7 linked regions of the Homo sapiens genome follow. The protein of the gene in region 2 purifies or fractionates together with the protein of the main gene of each other region. This does not show direct contact. Each region holds a gene or a part of one and is shown on either strand. Other genes may lie near its edges. The genes, in order: GALNT7, PLTP, POFUT3, GLB1L2, ITPRIP, UGT8 and NMD3.

What was found.
Region 1: the proteins of PLTP (region 2) and GALNT7 purify together in Homo sapiens (affinity purification with mass spectrometry; 2 studies listed by BioGRID and IntAct, with this or other methods). This does not show direct contact.
Region 3: the proteins of PLTP (region 2) and POFUT3 purify together in Homo sapiens (affinity purification with mass spectrometry; 2 studies listed by BioGRID and IntAct, with this or other methods). This does not show direct contact.
Region 4: the proteins of PLTP (region 2) and GLB1L2 purify together in Homo sapiens (affinity purification with mass spectrometry; 3 studies listed by BioGRID and IntAct, with this or other methods). This does not show direct contact.
Region 5: the proteins of PLTP (region 2) and ITPRIP purify together in Homo sapiens (affinity purification with mass spectrometry; 2 studies listed by BioGRID and IntAct, with this or other methods). This does not show direct contact.
Region 6: the proteins of PLTP (region 2) and UGT8 purify together in Homo sapiens (affinity purification with mass spectrometry; 3 studies listed by BioGRID and IntAct, with this or other methods). This does not show direct contact.
Region 7: the proteins of PLTP (region 2) and NMD3 purify together in Homo sapiens (affinity purification with mass spectrometry; 2 studies listed by BioGRID and IntAct, with this or other methods). This does not show direct contact.

The regions. Positions count from the first base shown.
Region 1 is NC_000004.12:173,318,811-173,321,638, reverse strand, and holds part of GALNT7 (N-acetylgalactosaminyltransferase 7), read right to left. Parts: intron 60-2,828; coding exon 1-59. UniProt on the Homo sapiens protein: Glycopeptide transferase involved in O-linked oligosaccharide biosynthesis, which catalyzes the transfer of an N-acetyl-D-galactosamine residue to an already glycosylated peptide.
Region 2 is NC_000020.11:45,909,356-45,913,466, reverse strand, and holds the start of PLTP (phospholipid transfer protein isoform a precursor), read left to right. Parts: upstream 1-1,311; 5' UTR 1,312-1,388; intron 1,389-2,003; 5' UTR 2,004-2,014; coding exon 2,015-2,114; intron 2,115-2,215; coding exon 2,216-2,315; intron 2,316-2,472; exon of another isoform or gene 2,473-2,596; intron 2,597-3,396; coding exon 3,397-3,525; intron 3,526-3,795; coding exon 3,796-3,951; intron 3,952-4,111. UniProt on the Homo sapiens protein: Mediates the transfer of phospholipids and free cholesterol from triglyceride-rich lipoproteins (low density lipoproteins or LDL and very low density lipoproteins or VLDL) into high-density lipoproteins (HDL) as well as the exchange of phospholipids between triglyceride-rich lipoproteins themselves.
Region 3 is NC_000008.11:33,372,147-33,375,646, reverse strand, and holds part of POFUT3 (GDP-fucose protein O-fucosyltransferase 3), read left to right. Parts: intron 1-2,842; coding exon 2,843-3,070; 3' UTR 3,071-3,435; coding exon of another isoform or gene 3,436-3,500. UniProt on the Homo sapiens protein: Protein O-fucosyltransferase that specifically catalyzes O-fucosylation of serine or threonine residues in EMI domains of target proteins, such as MMRN1, MMRN2 and EMID1. Attaches fucose through an O-glycosidic linkage.
Region 4 is NC_000011.10:134,362,988-134,366,487, forward strand, and holds part of GLB1L2 (beta-galactosidase-1-like protein 2 isoform b precursor), read left to right. Parts: intron 1-1,340; coding exon 1,341-1,411; intron 1,412-3,500.
Region 5 is NC_000010.11:104,335,666-104,339,787, forward strand, and holds the start of ITPRIP (inositol 1,4,5-trisphosphate receptor-interacting protein precursor), read right to left. Parts: upstream 2,801-4,122; 5' UTR 2,581-2,800; intron 1-2,580. UniProt on the Homo sapiens protein: Enhances Ca(2+)-mediated inhibition of inositol 1,4,5-triphosphate receptor (ITPR) Ca(2+) release.
Region 6 is NC_000004.12:114,626,307-114,629,806, forward strand, and holds part of UGT8 (2-hydroxyacylsphingosine 1-beta-galactosyltransferase precursor), read left to right. Parts: intron 1-3,500. UniProt on the Homo sapiens protein: Catalyzes the transfer of galactose to ceramide, a key enzymatic step in the biosynthesis of galactocerebrosides, which are abundant sphingolipids of the myelin membrane of the central nervous system and peripheral nervous system.
Region 7 is NC_000003.12:161,227,811-161,231,310, reverse strand, and holds part of NMD3 (60S ribosomal export protein NMD3), read right to left. Parts: intron 1-3,500. UniProt on the Homo sapiens protein: Acts as an adapter for the XPO1/CRM1-mediated export of the 60S ribosomal subunit.

The sequences.
Region 1 (2,828 bases), on a different chromosome or scaffold from region 2:
AGGACCTCTGAGCGATCTAAACACTTTCCTGAAGGAATATGAGTAAATCTGTGCAGGTTCTGGAAAACACAGTAAGAAAAAAGTTTCAAATTTGGACCCTTGATATCACTGACATCAGAAATCATCACTTGACTTTCATGAGGAGACAGTTTAAGGAAATGGAAAAGCTTCTCAACCACACCTCAGACTTTGGATTTCTCTTGATTGTCAGTTTTCTGGATTTCTCTTGATTGTCAGTTTTCTAAGTCCTAAGATCTTTCATTGTTAAGTCACAATATACTGCTGGTATCTCACACTCAATGTATACAAACCTAAATTCATTATCTGCCCCTCCAAATCTATGTCTCTTGTTCCTATCCTGGCTAATGACATTCCCAGCTCTCTAGTCCTTAGGAAATACTGCACTTTTCCTCATTCACTCACATACCAGTCACTAAGGATGGATATGTGCAATGTCTCTGGTTTATATTCCTTCCCATCGCCACTGCAGATGCCCTGGTTTGGCCCTCACCATATGCTGTAGGTTTCTTCAATATAGCTCAGAGCTTCTCAAAGTCTGGTCCTCAGACTATCCAGGATTGGGTCTGTAAGGCCGAAACTATTTTCATCATAATACGAAGACACCATTGCCTTTTCACTTTAGCAACATTTATACCGATAGTGCAAAAGCAATGGTGAGTAAAACTGATGGTGCCTTAGCATGAATCAAACTATGCTAGTACCTATAGTTGTATTGCTCATGGCCACACACAGTTGAAAAGTAAATGCCGGTTTCACTTAAGGATGTCACTGATGAAGGAGCAAAACATTCGTTTTATTCAGTCTTGACCCCTCAGTATACTTAAAAAAAATTCTATGAGATGAAGTGGGAAGTACGTATCAAGTACTTCCATATAATGAGGTACAATGCTCAAGGATATCAGTCTACACTGGAAATAACTTTTAAGAAACTACCACTTAATTATTAAGTTGTGGTGTACAATAAAAAAACAGCCACAATTATATGAACGGCTATTAAAGTACTCGCTCCCTTTACAAACTGTATGCTTGTGTGGGGCTGGGTTTCCCTCATATACTTGAACGAAAACAACATTTCAGATCAGACCAAATGAAGCAGGAGTATGAGAATCCAGCTGTCTTCTTCTATTAAACCAGACATTAAAGAGATTTGCAAAAATACAGAATTCCATTCTTCTCACTATTTTTTGTGGGTAAACATAGTTATTTTTCATTAAAAATGTCATTTACATTAATGTTTAATAAGTATATTATTATTACTTTTAGATGAATTAATATATAAAAACTTTACAAATTTCTCAGACACTTTCCAGTTCTGGAAATATTGCTAGTGATAACCTATATAAACAAAAGCAATTTGGGGGTGGGGGAGCTCAAAAATTTTTAAGAGTGTAAAGGGAATCCAGAGGACAGAAAGTTTGAGAACTGCTGCTCAAGCTGATCTCGTTGCTTCATCAGTCCATACCTCACGTTTCCAGAATTATTTTCCTAAAAGTAGCCATTGTTTTCCATCACTACCTTCCTCAAATAAGGTCTATCCCTCTCCAAAACTTAAAAAATGAAGTTCGGTGCTCTTTCCTCCAAAGCACAATTGAGGGATACCAAATGAAATACAATTCTTTGAATTTTCTACATGTTTTCATGCCACATCTTTGCTCATCCAGGCTTTCTTATTTACTTTCCATGGAAAGCCTTTTTACACTTCAGGACTTGTGCAATGACACTTCCTCTATGAAACTCCTCAGCAGTAATTCCTCCCATGAATCACTCTTTTCTGTCCTATGGCATTTTGCTTATCTCTATTTTTGCATTTCTTTCTTCTCTGCCATTATATAATAGCGTGCTTTAGCTATATTTTTGAACTCCCCTACAGTCTAACATATTATTGGTCCCCAAGTGAATGTTCAGTAATATCTAACACACAAATGTATATTCAGTGCTGCGTCTTTAAAATACCTAAAACATGTTATGTGTCATTTTTTGTTCAATTACTTCTTGATGTAGTTTCTGGTGTGTTAGCCCTCTTTTACTATTTTGCTAATATTGTTCTCACTGACCCCTACTATTTATTGCTATTATATATCCTTTTTTTTTGTGAAAATAAATGCTCCACTCTTTAAGGTTTATGCTATTCTTCTCCTTCCTAACTTGTTATAAGAAACAAAATCATCAATTGATACGTGCTTATCACTTCCTGGAAATTATCTGTAAATGACAGTAACAGGGAATGTTAAGCTAGGTCATATCATTATTACATAGCAAACAAGTCCTTGCTTGCATGACAGATGGGATATGATAACAAATACTGGGTGAGTAAATAAAATGGAGGGTTGACAGATTTTTTTAGTGTGAGGCAGCTTTCCCCACTTTTTGTTTAATAATAAATTGATTTATGTTAGCCAAATCTAGAATTTGAAAACTATACATAAATCTATTAATATGTTGTAATCCTCAACTTGCCACAGAGCTTTAAATACTCACAGCTGAAACACAAAGCTACCCCAGCAGTGTCACGTGAATAACTAAATTTGACCATTAAAGTAAGCAACTAGCTACATTTATCCCACTGTATTTAGCACACAACAATGATAAAGACGTTATGAAAGCCTAGATTTCAAGTTTTATTTGTTTGTCTCTATCTCCACCTGCTGGACAATATCAAATATTAACCAAATTTTTAATAGTATAAATATATTTAAATATATTTTACTTTAATGAATGATTCATTTACATTTCAAAAATCAGATTTTGATGAGAGCAATGGTGATGACTGCCTCACAGAACACTGACTTTCTTGTATTACTAAAATT
Region 2 (4,111 bases):
GTCTCAAAAAAATTAATTAATTAATTAAATAAAAAAGGAAATGGAACTATTTTTGTGAATCTGTGGATTATATCAGAAAAAAAAGACACAATGGGGAAAGTCCTAGGCAAATCAGGATGAGTTAGTCATCCTTCCTAGATGAGTGTTTGGTGCTAAATACATGCTCAGCAGACATGATTATTGCTTCCCCTTTCTTTCGTCCATTTGGCAACAAAAAGGTGGCAAGCACCCACTCTGTGCCCTGTCCTAGGGTCCGGGAACCCTGTAAGCAGTAGATGGAGGTGGGGGTGGGGGTGGGGGCGGGGATGCTGTTCAGAGCACCTTGCTCCAAGGGTTCATTAAAAAATCCACCAGTGGACCGGGCGCGGTGGCTCATGCCTTTAATCCCAGCACTTTGGGAGGCCGAGGCGGGCGGATCACAAGGTCAGGAGATCGAGACCATCCTGGCTAACACGGTGAAACCCCGTCTCTACTAAAAATACAAAAAAAATTAGCCGGGCGTGGCAGCGTGCGCCTGTAGCCCCAGCTGCTGGGGAGGCTGAGGCAGGAGAATGGCGTGAACCCGGGAGGCGGGGCTTGCAGGGAGCCGAGATCGCGCCACTGCACTCCAGCCTGGGGGACAGAGCGAGACTCCGTCTCAAAAAATAAAAATAAAAAAAATAGAAAAAACAATCCACCAGCCACGATAAATGGCAGACCTCCTTCTGATTTCAGCCGGTGTGGTATGTTCCTGGGCTGACAGCACTTGTCTAGTCTTGCTTTCCCAAGTGGGAAAGGTCTCTGGGACCTTAAGGTCCCCAGGTGGTGACACAGAGACAGGTAGGGGGGCCCATAGCAAAGCCAGGCAAGGAGGTCCCGAGATGATTGTGGGTGGCAGGGAAAGAAAAAATATTCCTTGACTTTGTGCCTGGACCTGGTTGTAATAAAGGCCCAAGAGGTAGTTCCTATCATCGTGCACATTTCGCTGAAGGAAGAAACTGAGGGTCAGTGACCCAAGTGAAGTGACTTGCCCAAGATCATGCAGGAAGACATGGATAATTGTAATTTGAACCAAGGTCCCAGCAAAGTGGGATTGTTGGGGCTGAGTGGGCCGGCTCCTGCATTTCCTTCCCTCTCCCTGGGCTTGGGTCTCCCACTTGTCCAGACAGCGGCCGGGCTTGTCACGGGGCTCTGTGCAGCCTTTTCCACTCTCCCGGCTGCCAGCGTCCCGCCCCGTCCCCTCCCAGCCCCCAAGGGAGGAGGGGAGAGCTGCAGAGAGGAGGAGGGGTCGGGGAGGCCGGCTTTATAAAGGCGGCTGGAACAACCCTGCCCGCCAGACCCCGTCGCCCGGATCCCCTGAGCTGCCCGCCATCCCACGTGACCGCGCCGCCCCCCAGCTCCACCGCTGAGTGAGTTGGGGCGCGTCCCTATCCCGTTCCCAGTCCCTCGCCGAGCCGCGTGGTGCACTGAAGCCGGCGTGGGGAGGAGAGCCGATGAAGGAGAACGCTAACATGGGGGCTCCAGGCAGAATCTCTAATGGGAGAGATTTAGGACCTGAGGGAGCCGGGAGACCCGGGAGCCCACGGTCTGGTCGGCCACCTCCTCTCCTCCCCGGGCGCGAGGCCTAGGAGACCGCAAGCCACCCTCCAAGAATGCGCGTGCAGTCGTTGCCGTGGCAACGTGCAAGCCTGCATGGGCCCACCGCTAAAGGAAAGGGGAGGTTGTTGGGGGTGTGGGGGCTGGTCCCCTGGAGGTCCAAACTCATCACGCGGCGGTAGCACGAGGGAACTGGGAACGTCCCCTCCCCCGTGTCCCAAATCCTCTGGGAGCCAGAACGCAAGTCGCATCGCCTCTCTGAGCCTCAGTTTCCACATCTGCCATATGGAGGCAAGATTATTGGTTCCAAGTTCCCCGAAGAGTTATCTGGAGGGTAACGATCCAGGCTAGTTCCCACTTATGGTTGGACGTCCAAGGAATGGGTTTAAGCGGCTCAGATAACTCCTGCGACCCCACCCCACCCCCAGGCCCGCTCGCCATGGCCCTCTTCGGGGCCCTCTTCCTAGCGCTGCTGGCAGGCGCACATGCAGAGTTCCCAGGCTGCAAGATCCGCGTCACCTCCAAGGCGCTGGAGCTGGGTAAGGCGCAGGGGCAGACAGGGACGGACGGGAGCGGACGGGGTTGGGGTCGCCCCAACAGTGGGCACGGGAGCTAAGTAAGGGTTTCTCTGCTGCTTCAGTGAAGCAGGAGGGGCTGCGCTTTCTGGAGCAAGAGCTGGAGACTATCACCATTCCGGACCTGCGGGGCAAAGAAGGCCACTTCTACTACAACATCTCTGAGTAAGTGGGGGGCGGGGCCTCGCGATCCGGGGCGGGGCCTCGGCGGTGGAGGCGGGGCCCGAGAAATCTCAGGGTCTCGGGAGACTGGAGGCTGAGTGGGATGGGGCGTGGCCAAATCGATGAGGCAAGACTTAAGAAACCGGATGGGGCCGAAAAGATAAAGGCCAAGCCAGTCATCATAGGCGGGACCAGGCAGATGGGCGTGGCCTTGAAAATGTAGAGGGGGCCAAGAAGGAAGCAGGACCAGTGGATGTGAGGCGTGGTCGAAGAACAACAGAAAGGTGGAGTCAAGGAACTTCCCAATAGATGAGAGTGGAGTCTCGGGCACGGGGTGGAGTTAATCGGAGGGGTGGAGAAACTGAAGGCTCTAAGTATGGTTTAGGATGAGGGAGGGGGAATAAGGAATTGAGATGTGAGACGGAGCTTAGGTGATGGAGGCAAAGTGAACGGACTCTATTAAAAGACCGGGTGTAGCAACCCCAGGGTGTGGGAGGGGAGGGGGTGCAAGCAAACAAGACTTTTTTTTTTTTTTTTTCTGAGAGGGAGTCTTGTTCTGTTGCCCAGGCTAGAGTGCAGTGGCGCGATCTTGGCTCACTGCAACCTCCGCATCCCGAGTTCAAGCGATTTTCCTGCCTCAGCCTCCCGAGTAGCTAGGACTACAGGCGCGTGCCACCACGGTCTGCTAAGTTTTGTATTTTTGGTAGAGACGGGTTTCACTATGTTGGCCAGACTGGTCTCGAACTCCTGACCTCAAGTGATCCGCCCTCCTCGGCCTCCTAAAGTGCTGGGATTACAGGCATGAGCCACCACCGCACCTGGCAAACAAACAAACAAGACTTTTAAGCGATGGGGTGAAGCTCATTTTTAACACCTGGATCAGGAAGACCTCCTCTCTCAGCCACCCAAGTTCAACTTTGAGCCACCCAAGTCTAAGTTGGGCACTTGAGGGACAATGGAAGAATTCATTCCACCCACTCCCGCTTCCCCAGGCCTGGACTTGAAAGGGGAGCAGACAAATTTCCTGTCGTTGGGGGAAGTTCCCTCTTCTTGGCCCTGGATCTGACCCTGAGGCCTCCTGTAGGGTGAAGGTCACAGAGCTGCAACTGACATCTTCCGAGCTCGATTTCCAGCCACAGCAGGAGCTGATGCTTCAAATCACCAATGCCTCCTTGGGGCTGCGCTTCCGGAGACAGCTGCTCTACTGGTTCTTGTAAGGACCCAGCACCCTCAGGGGAGTGGAGAGTGGGTCAGGAGGGCTGGAGGTGCTGTGGGGCTGTGGGCAGCCCCCTTAGCCTTCCTGAGTTTCCGTTTCTTCATCTGTGTAACAGAAACAGGCATATGCATTTCATACGAGTTGATAGGAAGGTTTGGTAGGATGTGTGGAAAGAGGTGAAACCTTATTAAGAGGTATGGTGATGCATGGGGGCACTGAAGACTCAATTGAGCTCCTACCTGGAGTGAATATTAACCCCCCTGGCAGCTATGATGGGGGCTACATCAACGCCTCAGCTGAGGGTGTGTCCATCCGCACTGGTCTGGAGCTCTCCCGGGATCCCGCTGGACGGATGAAAGTGTCCAATGTCTCCTGCCAGGCCTCTGTCTCCAGAATGCACGCGGCCTTCGGGGGAACCTTCAAGTAAGCCCCAGCCCCAACCCCAGCTCACCCTTTTCGAGCCCCACAGCTCATCTGCCTAGCGCAATGCAAAGTGCATAGGCCTGGGAATCAGACCAACTGGGTCCAAAGCTCAGCTCTGTCACTTCCTGGCTGTGTGAACGTGGCCAAGTCACTGAAGCTT
Region 3 (3,500 bases), on a different chromosome or scaffold from region 2:
AATAAACCATGTAGTACACTATCATTTTCCCCCTTACATATACAGTTTTTTGTTTCTTTCCCAGGTAATAATTGCATCTTTATTTGATTATTTTTCCATGTACCTGTCAGTCATTCAGTCTTTGTTGATTGTTTAACTCTCCTCTGAAGATGTTGAGATATGGCAGGCATCCAGCTCTCTTGATCTTATGGAAGGGATCTCTCCCGGAGCCTCTGACCCACTCCTATCTGTGCTCATTGTCCTCTACCTTAGTGTGGAGCAGCAGCCTGAGATGTCACTTCCCCAGCATTTTGGGAATTTTCTTTCTTTTCTTTTTTTCTCTTCTGTTGACATCTGTTTCCTGCATGCTATGTCTCCTGTTTTCTTAGTTTATTCTCTTGTTTTGGTTGATCATACTCTCCAGTCGCTTCCTGAGAAGAGGTACATGCAAGAATGTGTGAAAATGTCTTCATTTCAGCTGAGCACGGTGGCTCGTGCCTGTACTCCCAGCACTTTGGGAGGCTGAGGCAGGTGGATCACCTGAGGTCAGGATTTCAAGACCAACCTGGACAACATGGTGAAACCCCGTCTCTACTAAAAATAAAAAAAAATAAAAAAAATTAGCTGGACATAGTGGCAGGCACCTGTAATCTCAGCTACTTGGGAGGCTGAGGCAGGAGAATCACTGGAACCCAGGAGGTGGAGGTTGCAGGTTGCAGTGAGCTGAGATCATGCCACTGCACTCCAGCCTGGGAGACAAAGCGAGATTCTGTCTCAAAAAAAAAAAAAGAAAAGAAAAGAAAAAAAAGAAAATGTCTTCATTCTACCCTAAATTTAAGCAATAGGTTAGCTGACTGTAAACCACTAAAATGGACATTCATTTTTCTCAGAATTTTGAAGGTATTTTGCCATTGTCTTTTACTAAAAACACTTTTAATTTTTTTTACAGAATATTTTAAAGATAGTTCAGAGTTCTGTATGCCTTTTCCCTGGCTTCCCCTCATGCTATCATTTTATGTAACTGTGGTACATTTGTCACCAATAAGAAATTCATATTGGCACATTACTGCTTGCTAAACTGCAGAGTCTAGTCATATTTCTCTTTAGTCATATTTGGCCATATTTCTGTAACATCCTCTGTCTGCGCTAGGATCAAATTCGGGATACCAGGCTGTAATTAAACCATCACGTTTCATTAGTCTCCTCCAGTCTGGACAGTTGCTCAAGCTTTTTCTTATTTTTAATAACTTTTGAAGAGTACTGGTCAGTATTTTGTAGAATGTCCCTTCATACGGTTTGTCTAATGTCTTCTCATGTTAACACTTGGGTTATGGATTATGGGGAATAATACCACAGAGGTAAACGTGTTCTCATTGCATCCTATTAGGGCAGCTGTTCCTAACCTTTTTGGCACCAGAGACCTATTTTGTGGGAGACAATTTTTCCACAGACCGGTAGGTGGGTGGGGGATTAGATGTTTATAAGGAGTGAGCAAGCTGGATTCCTCACATGTGCAGTTCACAATAAGGTTCACCCTCTTAGGAGAATCTAATGTTGCTGATGATCTGACAGGAGGCAGAGCTCAGACGGCAATGCTCACATGCATGCTGCTCACCTCCTGCTCTGCAGCCCGGTTCCTAACAGGCCAGGGAACAGTACTGGTTCATGACCCGGGAGTTGAGGACCCCTGTATCAGGGGATGCATTATACCAACATAACGTATAACTGGTAATGTTAACTTTGATTGCTTGGTTCAGGTGGTATGTGCTAGGTTTTCCCACTGTGAAGTTGCTAATTTTCCTATTCTTCTATGTTTTGTTACTCTTCTGCCCTCTTCCATTCTCCCAATTCTTACAGGTTAATGCCTTTCAAGAACAGTCCTTTTACTCTCATTTTAATGGTGTTTCTGGAGGAAATGAAATTGGATATGTGTGTTCACTCTGTTATCCTGGAGTTTTTCTGTCTCTCCTCTTTCTCTTTTACTTTTCTTTTTCTTTTCTCCCTTTCTCCCTTCTAAATTATTGGAAGGTCAAATCCTGAACATGTAGGCCATTTTAAGGACTTGGACTTGAACTTGGAATGAGAAGGGCTGCCGAGTGTAGCCTGCAGAGGATCAGAAGTGGAATCAAGGGGTTAGTTAGGAGACCATGGAAATAAGCCAAGACTGAGCGTGGACCAAGCTCATTGCAGCATTTTGAAGCTGGGAGGTATTATGCCAATGTCAGGTACCATTATTGTTGGGTGGAAACATCTTAGTACTGGGGACAGTTGAGTGCAGTGGAAATATATTAAAAACAGGGATTAGTTGTAATATGTGACAACATAGATAGATGTAAAAACAGTGCTTGGTGAAAAGTAGCAAACAAATGAGACATACAATAACATATAAGTATATTAAAAATAAATGCCCAGAGATTGAGAACACATTTTGCAATGAGTATTCGAATACGCTTACATGCAAATACAAAGAACTGTGTTAAACATCTTAAAATATTTGCCTATGGGGAGGAGGATAGGGGTGGGATAATAGGGGGAAAAGGAATAAACAAATCAACAGATAAATAACCAGAGGGAGGGGAAGGCTTTAGAATCTAAAGAGAACTATATTCGATCTTAAGTATATACTGTTTGGGGCAATTTATGTAACTTTTTTGTGGTTTAGTTTCCACTCCTGTAAAATGGGGTAGTAGCACCTATTCAATATGCTTACCATAAGAATTAAGTGAGGCAATATGTGAGATGCTTTCTTTCCCCTTTAGCTCCATGGAGTAAAGCTGTTGTTTTAAGGAAAGTCTGTTGCTTTAAGGGAATTGTGCTTCATTATCATATGTTTTTAATTCATTTCTCTTTTCTCTTCCTGCAGGGCTTACCACCCAAAAGATGGGAGGCAGAAGATACCCACCTGAGTTGCCCAGAGCCCACAGTGTTTGCTTTCTCACCACTCCGGACTCCACCTTTGAGCTCTTTGCGAGAGATGTGGATTTCCAGCTTTGAACAATCCAAGAAAGAAGCCCAGGCACTAAGGTGGCTGGTTGATAGGAATCAAAACTTTTCATCTCAAGAGTTTTGGGGCCTAGTATTCAAGGACTGATTTCAAAAATGATCAGAATGAAACAGACTAGAGCCTTCTTGAGGTTTATTTTCTAGGTTGCCTTAATATTTGAACATAATAGCTATTCTGTTGACTATCCATCAGGATAATAATTAGTTGCTGCAGTACTCATAATGAGCCCTTTCAAGGAATAGATGTAAATTACCCTTAGGGGTAGCCACTATATTTTTTATACTAAAAAAGGAAATATTTCTTATGGACACTGGTTATCTTCCATGTCCGTGTCTGTGGACCCACATACTTACTGCCTTTTGTGGAAATTCACCTAGAGTGAGTACTTTCCTTGTGCAATGGAGGGAGACGATCTAGCTATAGATTCTTGATACTCACCTCACTCTCAACAGCTTATTGGTATTTGGCAAACCTGGTATCCTGCAGCCGAGCATGAACATGAAATACATTAGAACTT
Region 4 (3,500 bases), on a different chromosome or scaffold from region 2:
TACCTGTCCACTCTCCGCTTGTATTTGTGAGACGTATCAGGAAGGACAGGACAGAGATGCTTGTGTTCACTTAGCCCTGTGCATCCTGCGGACTTTGAGTTCAGCCTGCTCAGTTTCAGACTGGCCTCCTGTCTTCAAAGGGCTTCTGGCTTGAGGGGAGGGGTCTGGGTGGAGGGTCCCACCCAGTGGGCTGCTGGAGGGCAGGGACAGGGCAGAGCTATGGTATGGTGTCAGGGAGACCCAGGTGTGCAGTCCCGCTCTGCCGCTACCTGAGGCCAATTATTGTGACCTAGAGGCAAGTTATTTCACTTCCCCGGAGCCCCAGCTGTCGCTTGCGTTCCTTCACTGGCAATCAGAGGCTTTCGTCCTGCAGCAGAGCATCAGGGTGGCCTGGCTTGCCAGGCTGGCTCAGCCTCTCTGGTGTGTGCCTAGGCTGTGCCTGTGAACTGACTGTTAGGCAGATAGCAGGCAGGTGAGGGGCCCCAGGATAAGGCTGTGCCACTGGGGTGGGCGTGGGCATGCCCGGGTGTCAGCCAAACAGAGCGCACCTTTCTTGAGCATATGTTTCACTGATAGAAAGCCACTGAAAATAGCATTTTAAATTTTAAACGGAACATGTTATGGGGTAGAATACAGAATTAGCCCTTATCAAGAAATCAGAGAGGAATCTTTGTTTACATCATTACCTTGGACCGGATGCTTGGGGTGCCAAGGAAGGATCAGGCTCTGGTTCGTACAAAAGAACAAGGAACAGAGTGCATGCTCGGCTTGTAGAAGTCACAGTTGATTGAGATCAGGTGCACAGCGAGTGACTGCCTCTCAGCTCTGTGCTGCTGTGGCGGAGTCTCCAAGACAACAAGATAAGTCTCCTGGCGTCCTGGCTGACTTATTTATTTATTTATTTTTGTGAGACACAGTCTCACTCTGTCACCCAGGCTAGGGTGCAATGGCACAATCTCAGTTCACTGCAACTTCTGCCTCTTGGGTTCAAGTGATCCTCCCACCTCAGCCTCCCAAGTAGTTGGGATTACAGGCATGCACCACCAACCCTGGCTAATTTTTTTGTGTATTTTAGTAGAGAGGGGGTTTCACCATGCTGGCCAGGCTGGTCTCGAACTCCTGGCCTCAAGTGATCCACCTGCCTTAGCCTCCCAAAGTGTTGGGGTTACAGGTGTGAGCCACCGCGCCTGACTGTGGCTGACTTCTAACTGGAGGTGGGAAACGGTGTCAGGGCCGCTTACTTTATTGTGCTGGTGGATTGAGAAGGGTCTGGGGTCACCTAGAAGGTCCCTGGCTTTGAGACAGTGCTTTGTCTCTCTCTCTCCTCTTCCCTTTAACAGTCTTGGCCACCATCAACTTGCAGTCAACACACGAGCTGCAGCTACTGACCACCTTTCTCTTCAACGTCCAGGTAAGTCCAGCCCCAGGGAAGCTGCGGCCCGCCCTGCTCAGCGGCCTATGGGAATTCTGAATGCCTGTCAGCGTGCTCAGCTTCCCCAGCGCAGGGAGCTGGACTCAGGGCTGATGGCCTCTGGCCCCCCGCCCATGCCACTGTGTGCCTGCAAGGCCCGCTGCCCAGAAACACCTCTGAGGGCTGCTGTGTAGGCTGATGCAGTGTGGACATCACCCACTGCCCTGAGAGAGGGGCCCTTTTGGTGCACTCCTAGAGGACTCGACTTTTGTGGCCTCAACTAGCTCCAGACTTGCTCCCAGGGATTGAGGGGGGAAGGAAAAACTTCCCTGTCCTATACTACACAGGCATCCGACCTTAACCTGTGAGGCCCCTGCAATCCTAGAAAGATTATTGTCATCAGCAAGGCAGAAAGCCTGGTCCACTCCAGGTGCGGAGAGAGGGAGGAGTTTCCAGATGTCCCTCAATATCTGTCAGACTGATGGGCATTTATGCCACCCTGTAGTTCTGACTGGCCTCTTTCTCGAGCTCGCGTGCCCCTCCGAAGCAGGTGGATGGACAGGGCCATGCTGCAGCCCTCTGCAGACCTGAGAGGCCCCAGCTGTCCCCTGGCTCACTGAGGGGCGTGGATGCTCCAGACTGCCCCCACGCTGCATCGTCACACTGGTCCTGGGCCTGGAGTGGAGTTGTGCTTGGATGGACAGGCATGGATGGCTGTGGAGACGCTGGGCTGCTTTCCATTCCGGCTGATGGCCTTTCAGAGCAGGGGCTGTGTCCTCAGGCACATCTGCGTGGAGCCACCACAGCCGTGTGGGGCCGTGTGTGTGTTTGATGTGGCTTCTCCTGGAGTTCAGCTGCCAGAGTAGGCGAGGAGGCTCCCAGGAGGAGGTGGGAGGGCTGGCCCCGCTCCCAGGCAGGCTCCTGTGACGCAGATCAGGCGCGATCCAGCTGGGTCTCTGCCTTCCTTTCTTGGCATTTCCTGAGTGCCTGCCCATGTGTGCAGTGGAGTGGGGGGTGCCTCTCATACTTGTGACTGAGATGACAGGGTCTCCTGCCCTGTGCTGTGTGACCTTGGGCAAGTTACTTAACCTCTCTGTGCGTCTCTCTTCTTCTAAGTGGGGATGATGAGAGTACATTTCCTTATGGTGTCAACTCACAGGGTTGTTTGAAGATTAAATGAGGTAATATTTGGAAAGTGCCTAGCACAGCAGCTGATACAGCAGAATGCCTTATGTTTAGCCTTCAAGGTCATCCTTAGAGGGGTAGCCACGCGCGAGCCTTCCCAGGCCAGCTGTCCTGCTAACAGAATGGCCCTGCTGAAGGGCTTTATGTGCGCAGTCCAGAGATGTCTGTTTTCCTGAAGGAAGGGGACTTGGACACCTCCCTGTTTAAATCAAGGGCTCTCTGAATGCACAGCACAGGCCTCCAGGTGTGCTCCATGTGGCGATGTCCGATAGCACCTCACTCGTCCTCTGTGTCCATGACCCGTGATGGACAGAACTATGCAAGTGTTTCTTGAGCACCTCCTACCTGCCAGGAACAGTGTGCTAAGGGTGTTATGTGCACTCTCCCGTTTAATTCTCCCAATAGTCATATGAGCCAGTGAAGGAGACAGCTATAGAGTGTATAAGACACCCTGTAAGTAGTGGCTTGGGGACTGCAGAACAGTCTCACTACAGAGCTCCAGCTCTTAGCCAGTTGTGCAGTGCAGTGGCCTGGCCCATGGGTGGACACCCACCTCCGCAGCTCTGGTACCCTCAAGCCAACAACCTTGCTTCTGGCATGGGAGATTTCTGACTTGTGGGACTTTGAATCTGCTTCTCCCTTTTTAGTGATTTAAACGTGGTATGGTATGTCTCCTTCTTGGAAGGTAGGTGGCTTGTAAAGAAAACCAAGCCGCCAGTCTTGCTAGAAGAATTCTTGTAACTACTTTGGCTTTAACCCGGGTATGGCTGGTACCTTCTACTCAATGGACCGTGAGTTTGTCCCATCCCCCTGGATCAGATTTTGTTGCTGTGTATGCGGTATCCCTCTAAACATAAGGCTATCACTGACCTAGAGATACTTGACAAGCTGTCACTGAATAAGT
Region 5 (4,122 bases), on a different chromosome or scaffold from region 2:
ATGGGTATTTCCTCCTTTGACAGAGAAAGAAAAAGGCAACTGTTCTTCCCCCTTTCCCACGAGGGTTCCCAATTAAACTAGCTTTTTAAGCTTAAGTTGCTTCTTGGTCTATGAATGCCCAGTGATTAAGACTCACCTTCCAGGCTCTGGAACACTTAACATCCCTGTGCCTCAGTTTCCTCATCTGTAAAATGGAGTTAACAATACCTAACTCATACGGCTACTGTGAGGATTAAATGAGTTAATACAGGCTAAGTACTTTTGGGGAAAAAAAAAAAAAGCCTGGCGAATGTTAAGCCCTCAATAGTGGTTGTTTATCAGGGCTGCTGTGTGAATGGTGGACCAGGCAGTGTACTGCTTAAGGCACCTGGCTGAGGGGTGAGGATAAATCCAGCTCACATGCCACTTATCCAGCTATATGGCTTGGCTATGTCCACTCAAGTAAGGCCAGTATTTCTAAGAGGCATCAAGCCCCATCCTCTTGCCAAGACAGAGCACCTTATTCTAATTCATGCGAAGGACTGAATAGGCTAGCAGCAGCCCTGGAGGTTATCATGAACAGTTCTCAGCATCCTCCTGGCTCTGTACCCCTCCCCAGCAAGACTGGATGAGAGAAGGGTCCAGGATGGCCTGGTGTCATCCATAATAAAGTCCTGCTTCTCAGCTCCCAGAACACTTGGAGCACCCACCCCTTCCAAGCAGATTCTCCATTAAAGCCCCACAGGCTGCCGTGCCACCTCAACCCTACTGGGGCAGACTCTCAACTCGAAACATGGAACCTGAGTCTTGGACTCTGAAAGCACCTTCTCCTGCCCAGTTATTTTTTTTTGGGGGGGGGGGGGCAGCGGGGCATTGGGGGGTAGGTTAAAGACAGGGTCTGAACTCTGTCACCCGGATGGAGTGCAGTGGCACGATCCTAGCTCCAACCAAGTGATCCCAACCAAGTGATCCCAGCTCTAAGCCTGGAACTCCTGGGTTCAAGCAATCCTCCCACCTCAGCCTCCCAAAGCTCTGGGAAGACAGGCAGCCACCCAGCCCAGACTCTTTCCTAACTGTTGATGGCTACCTGTCTCTGCTGATAGCTGTGAAAGGAAAATACAACCTTAGGACCCCAAGCTCAGGATGCCAAAGGGAAAAGTTAAGCTTGGGAACTCAGTCATGCAAAAAACAAAACCGAAAACAAAACTGCATTCCTTTTGTTGCCAAACAGATAGCTATAATTTCACATGCTTACTTTATCTTACGTAAAATGTAGATTTACTGAGCATGAGAAGAATGCACCCAGGGAGAGCAGAGAGTCAGTATAACTACTTCATGGTTACCCACAAGTGGAGAAAATCCGAAGGCAGAATGGCCCAGAGCAGCCGCAACATACAGGGAATTAGCAAACAATGAAAGCCACTTAGGCACGAGGGCTGGAGGGAGGACTCAAAAACACAGCCTATTCTGTTTTCGTAAGGAGGAAAGACAGTAATCCACTTTTCTGATACTCTATTTTCAGGGCTCACCTGGGCCTAAAACTGCACCAACCACAGATGAACTTTAGCTGGCAGTCAGATAGACTCGGTTTGTAAAAGGCAAGAGCACTGGGTCATATCCAAAAAAAGAACAAGAAAATAGACCGCGACCCCGATTTAGATCCAAAAGACCAGAGTCCAGATTGCGACCAATATCTGGTACTCTACTGTTTGTGAAATGAGACCAGTATCTGGTACTCTACTAGTTGTGAAAGGGTGCTTTTCTCATACCAGCAGAGGGGCAAAAGGCAAAATGAGGCCCCTGCCTGGTTCCGTAAAATATTTTACCTTCCTGGTCGGTGGCTTTTTTTTTCTTTTTCTTTTTCTTTTTTTAAGAGAAAGCGTTTTGGATGGGGAGTCCCGCCCCGGGAGTCTTCACCAGGCGGCCAGAATGGCAAAGTCACAGGGATGGGGTTGAGGGTGGGGTTAGGGGTGAAGGGGCAGAGAGTTATTTGCAGCCCAAGAGCAAGTCTGCACAGCGTGAGGTCTGGCCCACTAATAGTCCCGAAAGAGGAAGCGGCGGGGATTTTATCCGGCCTGAAGCAGCCCCATAACTTCACTACCATGAACCGAGAAAAAAAAACTTCACGCCTATTCCTCCCTTACAGGAAGGGAGGGAAGGGGAAGGGGAAAAGGGGGCAGCAAATGAGCAGGGCGAACCGGCTTTTCTTTCTTCGGTAGCGCTCTGCTCAGATGTGAGAAGTAACGGGTCACCTGGCCACTAGGAACAAAAATGTGGTCCCGCTCTGGGCTCCGAGGCTGCGCGCGCCTCGAGGAGGAGCTGCCCGCAGCCCTGGCTGGAGCGAGCGCCCGGGACGCATCCCCCGACGCGGCGGGAACAGGATGCGGGACCGCGAGGAGACAATACGCCCGCCTGGGCACGCGCGCTTTAAGGGAAGGGGGTCTCCAAAGTCAGCCCCCACCCGGGAGGAGCAGGCGCCCGCGCTCCCCACACCCTCCTGCGCCCCCTCTGTCGGCAGCCATCTCCGACACAGCTCCTCCGAGCTCGCGCTCTCCATCGCGCCCTTCTTCCTTCAGCACACTAGGCTGCCCTGGGACTTACGATTGGCTTGGGTCCCCGGTCCCGGTCCCCGCCGCGGGAGGACGGCTCCAGCACAGGCTTTGCGCGCAGGTCGAGGGCCGAGGCGCCGCTGCTTGCAGGCGGCTGCGGTGGAGCTTGCGGCCCGGCACTTAGAGGGGCGCGGGCGGCGATGCCCCCGCTGGCTCCCACCTTCTGGCCTGCAGCGGCCGGCTCTACTGAACTTCAGAGTTACTCATTTCCTGGATGTCACAAAAACTTTTTCCTCCTTATAAGAACAAAACACCCGCCTCTACCCGCGGCCCCGGAAGCTCCTTAAGGAGGACCGTGTGGGTTTCGGTGGTTGGGCCCAGGATCCGCCGGGAAGACCTTCCCAGTGAGCCCCCAGAAACTTCCCCGGCACGGCAGAACTGGAGAGTGACTGGGAGAGACGGAATCAGGCCAGTGGAGTAAACTGGAGCGAGTGGACAGGGGCGCGGGGAGGACGCCCTTAAAAGTCGTCCTAAGCCGCGGAGCGGAAGGGGTTAAGTCCTTACCAGTCGGGGAGAGTTTTCTGCGGCGCGTTTTACAAGTGGCGGAATTCCTGGGGCCACCTATTTAGTCTCTTGGAGGAAAATATAACTCTAGACAAAACGCCAGCCTTTTTCTCTTTTGCAGCTTGAAAGGATTAAAATAGCTTACTACCGTTTTTTTTTTTTTTTGAGAAGGAGTTTCGCTCTTGTTGCCCAGGCTGGAGTGCAATGGTGGCGCTATCTCGGCTCACCGCAACCTCCGCCTCCCGGGTTCGAGCGATTCTCCTGCCTCAGCCTCCCGAGTAGCTGGGATTACAGGCATGTGCCACCACGCCCGGCTAATTTTGTATTTTTAGTAGAGAAGGTGTTTCTCCATGTTGGTCAGGCTGGTCTCGAACTCCCTTCTCGGCCTTCCGAAGCGCCTGGGATTACAGGCGTGAGCCACCGCGCCCGACTTTTATGATAATCAAATGCATGGTTGCTTTTCTCCGGGATTAACCGGGCACAAAGGAGAACAGTGACCGGATACTGTACGGGACAGGCGCGGTAGTTTCTGGTTACTGTTGTGACGGTAGATCAAGTGTTACTACCCCTATGTTAGAAACGAGAGAACTGAGGCCTGGAGGAGCAGCAGCAGCGTTCTGGTCGAGCTTAATAGTTTATGAAATCCATAACTTCTATTGTCTTCCCTTTGACCTGCCCAAATCCTACCATCAGTACAAAAGGCAGAGCAGGGTTTGAATGAATTCTCCATTAAGCGGCTTTGGGGGCACCAAATGCCAGTGAAGGCACATTGGGGAAATTGGAACACAGTGTCCAAAATGATCACCATTGCTACTGCTATTTGGTCTTAGATCACCTTTTTTTCGTCTTTTCCTTTAACACTCGCCTGGAAGACTTTTTGGCTGAGTCTGAAAGATAAACAGGCAATGAGAAAATGTTCTAAAAATAGACTCCCTGGCCCTTGGCCCAGGGTACTTTTGTTTTCAAGTTTCTACTGCTGCTCAAATTCTTTCCTTACGTAAGAGGTTATGGCAGAATTTTGGGGGCCAGT
Region 6 (3,500 bases), on a different chromosome or scaffold from region 2:
TGTTGTGACAGTAACACAGGAAGGCCCAGAAAGTAGCTGCGTAGAACACATGATTCACATATAGCAGCTTAATTGTTAATTGCCCTGGTATCTTACACTGGGCATAGATTAGGTTTTCCAGATGTCTGTAAATGATTTTACAGTGGGACTGAATTTCACAACCTGGGATGAAAGGGCAGAGAAAATTTATAAAGGACATTTTAAATAAGCTTTCACAATGTTTGATCCTAAAGAAATCCTGTAGAGAGCATATAGTTCGGCTCCATTCCTTTTATTTATTCTTTCCTTTAAAGTAGGTAGAATAGAGATAGGGAATAGTCCATCCATTTCTCACATAGTAGATACAAAGACTTCATCAAAAGCCACACAGATAGTCTGTGGCAAAGTCAGGTGTAATGTGGATTGTTTTGCTATTTATTAGGTGTTTTTTCAAGGTGATTGCATCTCTTGTCACTAATTTTAGTCATTTACTTACTTACAATTGTGTATAAAACCATGCAGAGACAGCAGTTTTTTGAATCTTATTTATTTTATGTCTCTCAAAGATTGTCAGGGCTTAATACTCAAGTCAAATGAAACCATATGGACTCTTATTTATGCTTTAGAGATTTGATAAACTAAATCAGCCTAAGTTCAAATGCTTTTGATTACAAAATGTTGTGTCAGTGTAGAGTGAAGAAATTGTGTGCCTTGATAGTAGAAATCATTTTAAAATCCATGTTAGAAATGTGCCTGGAAAGACAACTTATCATCTACTACCTGGCTGCCTCTAATAGGAGTCTTTAAACAATGTGGACTAAGGGGAAGAATTCTGAGTTGGATCACATTCATATAGTGGTTTACCTACTCTATCATTGCAGGCCAGTAGAGAACATGGATAAAGATTAAAAAATAAAAATGCTTTGATCAAGAAGGAGGTCTGTAGACAGGTCCCTATTTGAATAGATTCTTTTTTTTTTTTTTTTTTTGAGATGGAATCTCTTGCTCTGTCACCCAGGCTGGAGTGCAGTGGCATGATCTCAGCTCACTACAACCTCTGCCTCCCAGGTTCAAGTGATTCTCCTGCCTCAGCCTCCCAGGTAGCTGGGACTACAGACTAGTGCTACCATACCCAGCTAATTTTTCGTATTTTTAGTAGAGATGGAGTTTCACCGTGTTAGCCAGGATGGTCTCGATCTCCTGACCTTGTGATCTGCCCGTCTCGGCCTCCCAAAGTGCTGGGATTACAGGTGTGAGCCACCGCGCCTGGCCAAATAGATCCTTTAAATATTAAATGTGAATGAAATAATGACATCTAATTGGAAAGTGATTTTAATTTTTATTAATTTTATTAGCAGATAATCCACCAAAGAATAGTACATGTTTACTTAGGGAATCTAATAGTTATTAAAAATAAATGTTTCAAGTGATACTTTTTAGATGATTTCCCATTGGCTGAAATGGCCTACGCTGCCAGGCAGTTGCTCTCTGCCACTTTTCAACTTCTACAGCCTTGAACTCTTATAGCACCTAATAGCACTTTAACTACTGTTTGCTGTTGTTGTACTGTTTTTGTTGTTGTTTGTTTGTTTTACATGGCTCTCTTAACTAGAATGTGAGTACCTCAAAAGGTTGATACTCTATAACCTGAGTGCCTGAAAAATGGTTGGTACTCAATAAAACTTTAATATTTAATGAACTGTATCAAATAGAAATAGTTGCCAAAAATAGGTGATTCAGTTAGTGCAACAATGTTAATATTATAACTATCATCTGTTTGTTCTAAATTTGTGTCTGTATACTGTCCTAGCCATTAAGCAACCCAAAAATCCATGCTAAGTTGTTGAGTTTTTTTTTTAATTTTTATTTTTTGAGATGGAGTCTCACTCTGTCACCCAGGCTGAAGTGCAGTGGCATGATCTTGGCTCACTGTAGCCTCTGCCTCTTGGGTTCAAGCAATTCTCCTGCCTCACCCTCCCAAGTAGCTGGGATTAGAGGTGTATGTCACCACGCCTAGTTAATTTTTATATTTTCAGTAGAGACAGGGTTTCGATATGTTGGCCAGGATGGTCTCAAACTCCTGACCTCAAGTGATTCAGCCACCTTGGCTTCTCAAAGTGCTGGGATTACAGGCATGAGCCACTGCCCCAGCTGGTACTAAGTTATTTTAATGAATTAGAATAACTATTCTAATGTTACTGATAGTGAGGAAAGAAGATAACCATACCATTACCCAATTGTGAACTAAAATAGTCTTTTCTCTCTTCCAAATATGCATATAAACAGGGGCAGTGCTGAAAGTCAGGCCAGCTATTGCTGTCTTGAAAGATGATTTGAGGCAGCATGGCACTCATTTGGTGCTCTTCAGAGATACTATATTTCCACATTAGGAGTATTTATGGCATCTTAAGTTCACCAGTTGTGGAGACATTTTTATTTAAGGAAGCATAGTCTTGGGGAGAGATAAGAGATAAACAGAGATAAGAAAGCACATGGGACCAGGGACTAGACCAGGAGATATTCACTGTTTGTCATTTTGTTATTTGCTGGAACTCCCTCAGAGAATGATCTTGGGGACAATGAGAGATTGAGCAACAGAGTTATTAGATTAGCCACTTGTGAGCAGGTAAGTTTATGAGAAGAAAAATGAAATGAAGAAACAAAATAGTGACTTTCCATACTTGGTATTCCTGATTAACATAGAAGCCATTACTTCCTATTACATATGGTGATTGAAAGCTGGTTTCACCATTAATGAATGAAGTCTCTAGGCTTGGATATGAGACCAGGGTCCTTGGGGGTAAAAGACTTGATCCAGGGTTGCAGCAGATGTGGAAAATTAAGGCCATTTTTATTAATAATTACATATGCAATTTGTTATCTTATGAAATTTAAAGCTGGAGATGTAAAGCTTCATCTATATAGTAGTACTATGCTATGTTGTTAGCTATGTGGGGGTCAGAAAATTGAGGATGACAATGTTTAGAAGAGACTAATAATTTCATTCCAGTTACTAATTCTGAGTTCAGAAATGTTAGTACTTTAACTACTGTTTGTTTGTTTGTTGGATGGCTCTCTTAACTAGAATGTGAGTACCTCAAAAGGTTGGTACTCTATACCCTGAATGCCTGAAAAGTGGTTGGCACTCAATAAAAGTTTAATATTTAATGAACTGTTAAATGATAGTTTGGCAGAAAAAATAAATTCTCTAAGGGAACTCATTAATGTAAAATGTTTTTGCAGATGCTTTATAGGTTAATCATGTATTTTCTTATTATTTTGTAGTAAGAAACCAAATTTATAGTAAGTAACCAAATTTCTTGTTAAAGAAATCTATCCAGGAAGTAAGTAAATCAAGCACTGTTGAAACTATCAATGACTTAACTGTTCAGTTCACTGATACAAAAATTTTCTAAGCAACATTGTAGTTTTTAATAGCTTGTCATCTGCTTCTGTAAGCATTATGGGCTTACAAGGATTTCCTGATATGATAGGAGATCCAATATATGAACGGAATCAAA
Region 7 (3,500 bases), on a different chromosome or scaffold from region 2:
ACTCCCTGACTACCACCTCCCATCTTTCCAGCTTATTTCCTCTAGTTCCTGGGCACCAAATATCTTTCAAGCTAATATAATGGACAATCCATTCATCCTACCAACTTTATTCCTCATTCCTCCTCACTAGCTTCAAAATCAATAATCAAAATTATTCTCATGTACACACTCAATTTCCTTGTTCCCTCTCTTATTTCACCTTAGCCACTAGGCTAAATTATAAATTTGGTTAAATCCAGTGCTCTGCCTGCTCTATGCCTTGACTATGTGGCTGACAGAACTACAGAAATAGATGCACACCACAGTGACTAGTCTAAACTTGTAACAGTAACCCTCAGCACTGCCCAGCACCCATCCAACACTGTCCTGGTGCATTTCCTCTAGTTCTAGAGGACTATTTCATATCTTCCGCTCTCTCCTCAAACATCTATCTAACAGCTCTTCCCACATAGCTACTGCCCACGCTTCTGTTTTCTCCAGTACAAAAGAAGGAACCAGAGGAGAATTCCCAGAAGCTCCCACTCAACACCTTCCCTGCTGTTACCACAGATGAATTATCCATACTCCCATCAAGATCAACCTCCAGAATGCCCCTCTAGAGAGCAGAGATCTTTACTTTGTTCCATGAAATATTACAGCCTCCCAAAATGGTGCTTGGTGAAGAGTAAGTGCTGAATACTTGTTGAATGAAGGAGTGAATTAACAAATAAATGTATTCTTTCACTATGTACTATATCTCTTTTCCACTTATTGAGGCCACCCCCCAGCCAATTATTCTTCTCCCTGCAATTTCACAAAAATTTCCCTCCGTACTCTAACACTCCCAGAGAGCTTACAAATACAGTTATATATACCATCTTAAGAAATGTATCCTGGCCAAGCACAGTGGCTCATGCTTGTAATCCCAACACTTTGGGAAGCTGAGGCAGGAGGATCGCTTGAGCTCAGGAGTTCAACACCAGTCTGGGTATATTGTGAGATCTCTGCTCTACAGGGCCAAAAAGAGAGAGAAAGAGAGAGATCTCACCTCTAGTAAAAATAAAAATCAGCCAGGTGTGGTGGTGCATGTTTGTAGTACCAACTACTTAGGAGGCTGAGGCAGAAGGATCACCTGAGCCCAGGAGTTTGAGGCTGCAGTGAGACATGACAGCGCCACTGCACTCTAGCCTGAGCAATAAAGCAAGACCTTATCTCCAAAAAATAAAATAACATAAAAAGACAAGTGTCCCTTCCCCAACTTCCCCTTCAACCACTGCCCCATTTCTTTGTTTTCGTTTACAGCAAATCTCAAAAGAACTGTCTATCTTCCTTCTCCCATTTTAATTTCTATTTAAATGACATCTTTACCACCACCACTAAACAGAAATTGCCCATGTTATTAAGGTCGTCCACATTACTAAATCTACAGAACTCATTACTTGACTCATCAGCTGCAAATCACATAGCTACTCACTCCTTTCTTCTTAAAACACTTCCCTTTCCTCCCAGGACATCACACTCACCCTGTTTTCCTCCTACCTCCTAGCAGCTCCTTTCAGTCTCCTTTGCTGATTCCTCCTCATTACCCAATTATTTCTTCATCATTACCCATTAAAGGAATGATTCCAGGATTCAGTCCTCCAGTTTCTTTCCTTCTCTATGTAAACTCCTGAAATAATCTAATCCAATTCATGACCTTAAATACTATCTATATCCTAAATTCATTATCTCTAGACTGGACCACTCATTGGCTTATTTATCAACCTGCCTACTCAGTATTTCTACTTAAGTGTCTAGTAGACATCTAAATACCAGTTACAGATGAACTCTCATGCCCCCTACCCAGTGACTTGGCTGCTCAGGTCACGAACAGTGGAAGGCATCCTTAACTCTTCTGTCTCTTACAAAAACACATCCAGCTACATCAGTAAATGTTACTACCTTAAAAATAGATCCAAAATCTGTCCACTTCTTACCACCTCCATTGCTGATCCAAAACCATTTCTCATGATTATTACAAAAACTTAAACACCTTTACCTCCCTTACAACCATTCTAAAAACAGCAGCCAGAGGAATACTAATAAGTCATGTCATCTCACTACTCTGCCCTTCACCCTCTATACTCCTTACACTCAGAGTAAGAAACAGCCCCTATAAGGGCCTACAAGGCCAGACACACTGTGGCCTTCCATGACTTTTCTGGACTCTATCCCCAACTACTTTTCCCCTCACCACTCCGTTCTATTCACACAAGTATGCTCTTGCTTTTGGTCTCTACATTTGTTTTCTTTACCCCTAATGCTCTTCCTCCACATTTCTGCACAGCTTCCTCCCTTACTGTAATCTTTAGTGTTTACTCAAATGTCACCCTATCAGTGAGCCCTCCCCTAAACACCCTTACTTTAAATTTCAACTCTTCCATGCACAGTTCTTATCCTCTTCCTAGCTCCTTTCTCCACAGAATATACCTTTTAATATACCATGTAATATATCCACCTATTTTGATCGCTGCATACTAACATGCTGCTCCACACTGGCATGTTAGTGTGCAATTAGAATACACGCTTTCTAAGACAGGGATTGCCTTATTCACTGCCATATCCCCAACACCAAAAGCAGTTTGGCACAGAGTTGGTACTTAATAAACATCTGATGAATTAATTAATGAACTGTTAAGACTCACTAGACATTTGACAAAAACCCCAAGTATAAAAGCAAAAAACCAAGACACACAAAAAACTGACTTCATAAAAAAACAGAGACAAATGAGGGAACAGAAAGAAACAAAAAAAGTCCTATTATCAAAATCTTCAGAAAAACTTAAAAAAAATGCATCAAGAACATGAAAGACTCTGGAACTTAAAAACATTACTACTGGAAAAAAACAATTCATTAGAAAGATTAGAAGATAAAGTAAAAATCACCAAGAACAGAGGGGAGCGAAAAAAACCAAAAAGGTTTTTTAAAATATGAAGGGAAAAAGACAAAGTTTTATGCCAGAAGCGCCAAAAAGTGACCATCAGAAATTTGTGGGGTTGGCTGGGACCTAGTAGGAAAATAAAGGCAGAAATTTCAAAGAACTATTACATGAAATTTTATTAGAGCTTAAAGGAGAATCAGAAAAGTCTTCAATCTGAAAGAGTCAATTTCAATTAAAAACATGGTAGAAGTGAGTCATAAAGCTTAAAATAAAGAAAACTCATAGTGTCAATCACTTTCAATTTTATATCAGGAAATAAACTGTACTTTAAACAAACTATTTTTTTTAATACATTTATGCACTGACTTTCAGTGACAGGCACAAATATTTTATTTCCAGATCAATAATGACAATAAAAAGAAACCAAATAACATAGCCCTAATATTATAATCCCAATTATGTTTAGTGATGGTTTTACATAAAAATTTCCGTTAAAAAATTATACATGAGATTCTCGATAAATAACAAAGGAAAAAAATTAAATTCTGTCTTTTTAAAGCAAAAAGATATTTTTACTTTTCATAAAAAGAATATATATAA